Linked DNA regions of Homo sapiens. The protein of the gene in region 2 purifies or fractionates together with the protein of the main gene of each other region. This does not show direct contact. Each region holds a gene or a part of one and is shown on either strand. Other genes may lie near its edges. The genes, in order: CBLIF and ZNF354C.

What was found.
Region 1: the proteins of ZNF354C (region 2) and CBLIF purify together in Homo sapiens (affinity purification with mass spectrometry; one large-scale study listed by BioGRID and IntAct). This does not show direct contact.

Annotation. Positions count from the first base shown.
Region 1 is NC_000011.10:59,828,543-59,832,233, forward strand, and holds the end of CBLIF (cobalamin binding intrinsic factor precursor), read right to left. Parts: intron 3,255-3,691; coding exon 3,136-3,254; intron 1,004-3,135; coding exon 942-1,003; 3' UTR 731-941; downstream 1-730. UniProt on the Homo sapiens protein: Promotes absorption of the essential vitamin cobalamin (Cbl) in the ileum. After interaction with CUBN, the CBLIF-cobalamin complex is internalized via receptor-mediated endocytosis.
Region 2 is NC_000005.10:179,073,778-179,077,604, reverse strand, and holds part of ZNF354C (zinc finger protein 354C), read right to left. Parts: intron 1,161-3,827; coding exon 1,034-1,160; intron 535-1,033; coding exon 439-534; intron 1-438. UniProt on the Homo sapiens protein: Transcriptional repressor that inhibits endothelial angiogenic sprouting. Suppresses osteogenic effects of RUNX2 and may be involved in osteoblastic differentiation.

The DNA.
Region 1 (3,691 bases), on a different chromosome or scaffold from region 2:
TATGTTGGTCAGGCTGGTCTTGAACTCCTGACCTCAGGTGATCCACCTTCCTTGGCCTCCCAAACTTTTGGGATTACAGGCGTGAGCCACCACACCCGGTCATTTTAGGTCTTCTGATACAAATTTTTATATTATTCTCTAGAAAGTTTGTACCAGTGTTCACTCCTACCAGTAGAGATTACAGTTATGTTTATCTTTGAAAGCTTAATTTTTTTTCAAAGATCTATATCTATTTATCATATAAAATATATAATATGTTAAATTATATATAATCATATAACATATATTAAGTTATATATAATCATGTAAAATATATGATATATTAAATTCTGTATAATATATTGAATATAAGTTAGTTTACTAAGTACATATTAAATGATCTAAATATATATTTTAAATATGAATTTAACAAAAAAATTGGAAATGGAAGGAGAGAGTTAAGACATAACATCAATTACCAAGTTTTGAACCATCTGGGAGTTTTATATGTTGAAATGTTTGGTCATTTCATGTATACATGTATGTACATACGTGGGCATATTTACGTTAGGCAATTTGAAAAGGAGTGCTTGGTATGATAAGAAAATATGAAATTTAAAAAATATATCATTTGTAGAAATAGGGAATGTGCTATTTAATTAATCAAGAAATCAGAATGATATCCAAAAATATCAGCTACTCTCCCTTTTCCCCTCAGCTTAGGTTTAAATGATGATTGGCAGTCATTGTGTTGAGAAGATGAAAATTTTATTTTCATGAGTCATAGATGTTGAGACTCCAGTGAACTTTGCATTTTTATTCTACATAGTGGTTCTCCATGTTTTTACCAGGAATATGGTAGCATCACAGGCATTCGCTTTTTTGCATAGATTTAAAATGAAGTGGAAAAAATTTCACCCATCCTTTGGAGATGTTTGATAGAAGCTGAACCCACCTCTTCGTTAGTACTGTGTGAAATTGGCTGTGATGTGCTCGTGGTTGAAGGGTATGTAGTCAGCAACCCCTGGAAATAAGCAGAGAATAACATGAGGTGACTGTGGTGCATGTAACCACCTCCATCCCCCAAGGGATGCAGTGAGCTAGATGCAGTGAACCCATTAAATGTTTTTAAAGGAGTAAAATCATCCTAGAGAGAAATAAGCAGTTTGATTATGAAGAGAAAATGAAACTGAGATTTAGGGAGTTCTTGTTTCCAGTCTCTGGTCACCACTTCATGGAGTAAGTCTTTGGGTATACCCTTTAAGATGCGCGAGTCTCTTTTTCCTCACATACAAGATTTTGTTAATAATATTTACTCTGAAGAGTTATTTTCAAAATTAGGAATAATGACCGCTGGGTACCTAATACAGTACCTGACACAGAATAATTGTGCAATAAGTGGTGGTTATTGTTAAAATGGCTTATTTAGGCCAAAATTAGGGCATTCAAGGGAGAACTTCCTGTTCATTTTTGAAGATTTTGTAAGACATAAGAAAGAGCAGTGGGTTGAGAATTTTTGTCTTTCAGAACAGGAAAGATAGATGATGGCAATATCTGTTACCTTTCAGGTAGCTGGCAACAGAAAGAATGACAGTTTCAGGCCCAAATATTTTTGTTTCTCAGAGGCCTTTACCATTCTTTCTCCCAGGGAAGAAAAGTAATTTGTAGACATGAGAATATGCCTGATTTAAGTTCCTGGGGCAATTACTTTCTTTTTTTTTTTTTTTTTTTTTGAAACGGAGTCTCGCTCTGTCACCCAAGCTGGAGTGCAGTGGTGCAATCTCAGCTCACTGCAAGCTTCGCCTCCTGGGTTCATGCCATTCACCTGCCTCAGCCTCCCGAGTAGCTGGGACTACAGGCACCCGCCACCACGCCTGACTAATTTTTTTGTATTTTTAGTAGAGACGGGGTTTCACCATGTTAGCCAGGATGGTCTTGATCTCCTGACCTCCTGATCCGTCCGCCTTGGCCTCCCAAAGTGAATTACTTTCTTTTTAAAAAAATTCTGGGTGTTTAAAAAATTTTTAATTTTTGTGGGTACATAGTAGGTGTGTATGTTTATGGGGTATATGGGATATTTTGATAGAGACATTTCTTGGGATGAAGGTGATGGGAAAACTAATAATAATAATGATGATTAATATTTTTGAATACATGCCATGCAAAAAACATTGTACTTAATCATTCTAAGTATATTATTTCCAATCCTTACAATAACCCAATAAATGATTAATGCAATTTCCATTTTAAAGCTGTGGAAACTGGCTCACAGATTTACTACTAATATAATGCAGCTATTAAATAAGAGAAAGAGCTTCTAGCCAAGTCCTCTGTGATTCCAAGATCTTTATTATATGCTTTGCTACAACTCCACAAATTCTGACTGGCAAGATTTTGCTAAATACATGATTGATTCTAAGAAAAACATCTCCTCCACTGTAATATTGGATAATGAAGCATCTTTACCAACCTATAGCCTTGGCTGTACTGTGACTTTATTTGCCTTTACATGTCTCTGCATGGTGACAGTTAACATCAGGTTAACTAGGTAACGTCATGCTTAGACCAAAACCATACAGCAATGCTCTTTAAATTGGGGAATATTTTAATATGTGTGCAAAAGCTTTAACAAATGTTAAGGTTTTGCTGAAGTCTGAGTTTTATTCTTCCCACTTTCTCCTAATTTTTTCAGGGGAAACATGCACCAACATCCATATGCAGGCATTCCTCTCTCTGGAGATTTTTTTAAGAGAGAAGGTGAAGCATAAATTTTGAGTGAAACTTTTGTACAAAGCACATTTGTCCTAGAGTTTGGAAACCTGGGTTTGATTATCCACTTTTACATTCTAGATGCATGCCTTGTACAAGACCCTTTAATGTCTCTTAAGACTTACTTTCCTTCTCTGTGAAAAGTATTATCGCTGCCTACAGAATTAATCTCTTTCTCTATGTAATGATTATATATATATATATATATACACAAAATATATGTGTGTATACATATATAAGCAATCACTGTTTATAGAATTATTGTATATACACATGATCTCATAATTATTAATTAAGTGAATGAATGAATAAATTAAATGAAAAAATAATTAAAGAATGTAGCCTTCAGACTATGGAAGATAACGCCTATGTCTTTTCTTCCCTCACCTTCATTCAAAGGTGTTACACCACTAAGAAACTGCCAGTATGTCTTGTGATTAACATTTTCCGCGATATTGTTGATAGAAGAGACGACAAGGCCCCAAGATGTCATTGTGGTTTCAAATCTAAAAAAAAGTTTATATATGATTAACATCTCACTTTAGGTCAGGGAATAAGCGGTAAGATGAAGGGATAGAGACAGTCAATTAATTAATTAGTTAATTAATTTTTTAGAGACAAGGTGTGACTTTGTTACCCAGGCTAGTGGTGAGATCCTAGCTTATGGCAGCCTCAAAATCCTGGGCTCAAGCATCCACCCGCCAGGATAGAGACACTTTAAATGCTTCAGATAAATGCTTCAGATATTTTAAATGATATTCTCTTTTGAGCATGATTTTATCTGATAAAATGATCAGATAAAATCAAATGAGAAAATGCTTTAACCAGTTTACTATTGATGGGCATTTAGGTTGATTCCATGTCTTTGCTATTGTGAATCGTGCTGCAATGGACATGGATGGAGGCCATTATCCTTAGCAAACTAACACAGGAACAGAAAACC
Region 2 (3,827 bases):
TTTATCACAAAGAGAGACATATTCATTTCTTCTAATAAGCTGCAACCAAAAGACTGCACTCTCTTTGTAGGAATCTCTTGAGAATAATGAAAATCTGCAGGAGATTTGAAGTCAGTATGTCTTAAAGTCCTGAAAAATGCCCAAGCCCCAAGCTCAGCTTTGATTCTGGGTGAAAAGATTTAGTTCGAGGTGACTCTAAACTACTCTCTGTTAAAACCTGATTTCCTTTCATCAATCCATGATAGAAAATAGGTTAACATTAGATAACTGCAATTAGGTAATTGTGTGTACTTTAACCTATACAACTCAAACAAAATACAACTGGCCTGAGCATCTCAAGAGGACTCAGTATTTCCAAGAGTTTCCCAAGAACTGCCTCTTTGTGACCTACTTGTCTATAAAGAACCCCTTGTGCCCATTTCCCAGCCTCTCACTTACCTAGACGGGTATCTGAAGGGACTTCTCTTTCCACCATGCAGGGATCTTCTCCTTGCTGCAACTGATGAATCAACTTTGGCATTGAAAATGGAATCCCTGCTCATGAGGAAGCAAATGAAGTTTGAACAAATAGCATGAAGACCAATCCTAGAACTGACCTACTACTCACTCTGAACCAACACAGCAAAGAAGGCAAGCCCTGAGAGGCAGACAAGGCAGCACAAGCACTTCGCAGGGGCACTGGAGCTGTCAATGGCCGGGGAAGGTCTCAGTTCAGAACCATTATAGGGCCCTGACAATGAAGGCCTCTAAGATGGGGGGTCCCTATGTGTTTTTCAGAATCTAAACTGGGATCTCTAGTCATTGGCCTACTCCAAGGAGGGAACTGATTGGCGGTAGGATGTGAGGGAGAGTGGAGGGTAGAGAAACAGATAGCAAGAAGGGCATCACAACAAAGATGTACACTTTCCACTCTACAGCAATTCAGCCTTTCTGAGGGGCTCAGTAGGGTACAAGACCACAGGCTCGGAACCCCAAAGATGGACCTGTGAGGCGTTCCTATAACAGATTCTTCGTCATAGGCAAAAATTCTTACCCAGTGAGACCAGGCTGCTGTAGTTCTCCAGCATCACCTCCCGGTACAAGGCCCTCTGGGCAGAGTCCAGGTGCAACCACTCGTCCTGGCTGAAGAACACGGCCACATCCCTGAATGTCACAGGCTCCTGTAATGGCAAACCCATACCTGCTCACCCAGGACCATCTTCTTCAACGGAAAATGCAGGAAGAAAGTGACAGTGGGATGTACAGAAAATCTCAGGATTCTAATAATTCACGTCAACTGTTTACGTAATTTTTGGAACCACCCATTAGCTATTTAATTAAAAAAGTATTTATGGAGTACTCATTGAGAACAATGACACATGCCACGTGCAGTGGGAGTAGGGGAAAACAGGCAAAGTTCCTGCCAACAGGCAATTTAAATACCAGCCTGGGATCTTTCTCAAGAGAAGGCGATGTGATGACAGAAGCAGAGACTGGAGTGCTAGGCTCGGAAGATGGATGAGAGGGCCACAAGCCAAGGGCTGCAGGGAACCACTAGACGGTGAAAAGGGCAAGGAAACAGATTTTCCCCTGAGAGCCCTAGAAGGACCCAGCCCTGCCGACAGCCTGACCTCAAGCCAGTAAAACTGAATTCAGACTTCTGACTTCCAGAACTGTAAAAGAATACATTTATGCTGTTTCAAGATGCTGCATTTGTAGTAATTTGTTACAGCAGCAATAAGAAAGAAATACAATGTGAACAATTGAAGACAACCTACATATCTATCAATAAGGGAATGGATAAGCAAATTTCAGTACATTTATTCCATGAAACGTCATGCAGCCGCTAAATAGAATGAGGTAGATCTCTATGACACTGGAATTTGACCTTCATATATTATTGATTCATATGAAAAAGCCAGCCACAAAAGAATCTATATTTGTTGAAAAACTCTACATCTGTATATACATATATATGACACATGCACAACTATCTGGAAGGATACAAGCTGTCACCCTCGTTATTCTTTGATATTTGTGGAGAGGGGCAGAAAAGCAATCTTTCACTTATTACTTTATGCCCTATCATTAGGCTTACAGTTTTTTACAGTTAGGGAGATTGTGTGTATGTATGTGTGTTCCTTTGCTTTGAATTTTCTTAAATTCCATTTTATTTTATTTTATTTTATTTATAATTTTTTTTTTGAGATGGAGTCTTGCTCTGTTGCCAGGCTGGAGTGCAGTGGTGCAATCTCAGCTCATTGCAACCTCTGCCTCCCAGGTTCAAGCAATTCTCCTGCCTCAGCCTCCTGAGTAGCTGGGACTACAGGCACATACCACCAGCTTATTTTTTTTTTTTCTTTTTCTGAGACAGAGTCTCACTCTGTCGCCCAGGCTAGAGTGCAGTGGCGCGATCTCAGCTCACTGCAAGCTCTGCCTCCCGGGTTCACACCATTCTCCTGCCTCAGCCTCCCGAGTAGCTGGGACTACAGGCGCCCACCACCACACCCGGCTAATTTTTTTGTATATTTGTAGAGACGGGGTTTCACCATGTTGGCCAGGATGGTCTGATCTCTTGACCTCATGATCCACCTCCTGCCTCAGCCTCCCAAAATGCTGGACTTACAGGTGTGAACCACTACACTTGGCCTATTTTAACTTATATGTTGACTTTGTAGTTAGACCTCTTTGTATTTTTAGTGGTTACTCGAATAATTATAATGTACATTTTTGGTTACTCATCACCTATTTAGAGCTAATATATCGTTTCACATAGAATGCAAGAATCTTGCAAGTATATAGGACATCACCACCCTTCTTTATGCTATAGTTTTACAAAGATTTTCCCAGTTCAGAGAGTTGACAGCACTTACCAAACTTCACTGAGCGTATTCATGTCAAGGTTTTTATTGAAAGGCAAAGGGTACAGCACAGCAAGAGAAAGAGAGTTCAGGGAAGCACTAGAAAGCCAAGAGACACTCCATGTGCTGTCTCCCTTATTTGCACAGACCACGCCATGACTCTGGGTCTGTGTGAAGAATCTTGGTGTGGGAGAGCTCAAAGGAGGAACTCTCAGCAGGGGCCTTTTTATGTAATCAAGCAAGTCCTGTCAAATCATTTAGGCCAGTTGCAAGCCATCAGTAAGGAAGCTTACCAGGAGTAGCCAGTGGCATTGAGATCTTAAAAATACACAAGCCAGGCCGGGTGTGGTGGCTCACGCCTGTAATCCCAGCCCCTTGGGAGGCAGAGGTGGGCGGATCACCTGAGGTCAGGAGTGCGAGAACTTCCTGGCCAACACAGTGAAACCCTGTCTCTACTAAAAAAAAAAAAAAAAGTACAAAAATTAGCCAGGCGCGGTGGCTCACACCTGTAATCTCAGCACTTTGGGAGGCTGACGCGGGCGGATCACGAGGTCAAGAGATGGAGACCATCCTGGCCAACATGGTGAAACCCCATCTCTACTAAAAATACAAAAATTAGCTGGGCATGGTGGCACGTGCCTGTAGTCCCAGCTACTCGGGAGGCTGAGGCAGGAGAATCACTTGAACCGGGAGGTAGAGGTTGCAGTGACCCAAGATCACACCACTGCACTCCAGCCTGGGAGACAGAGCGAGACTCTTTCTGAAAAAACAAACAAAACAACAACAACAAAAACTTACACAAGCTGATGGCTGGGTTCAGTGGCTCACACCTGTAACCCTAGCACTTTGGTAGGCCAAGGTGGGTGGACTGCCTGAGCTCAGCAGTTCAAGACCAGCCTGGGCAACATGGTGAAACCCCATCTCTACTAAAAATACAAAAAATTAGCCAGGCTTGGTTGCATGCACCTGTTGTCCCAGCTACTCAGG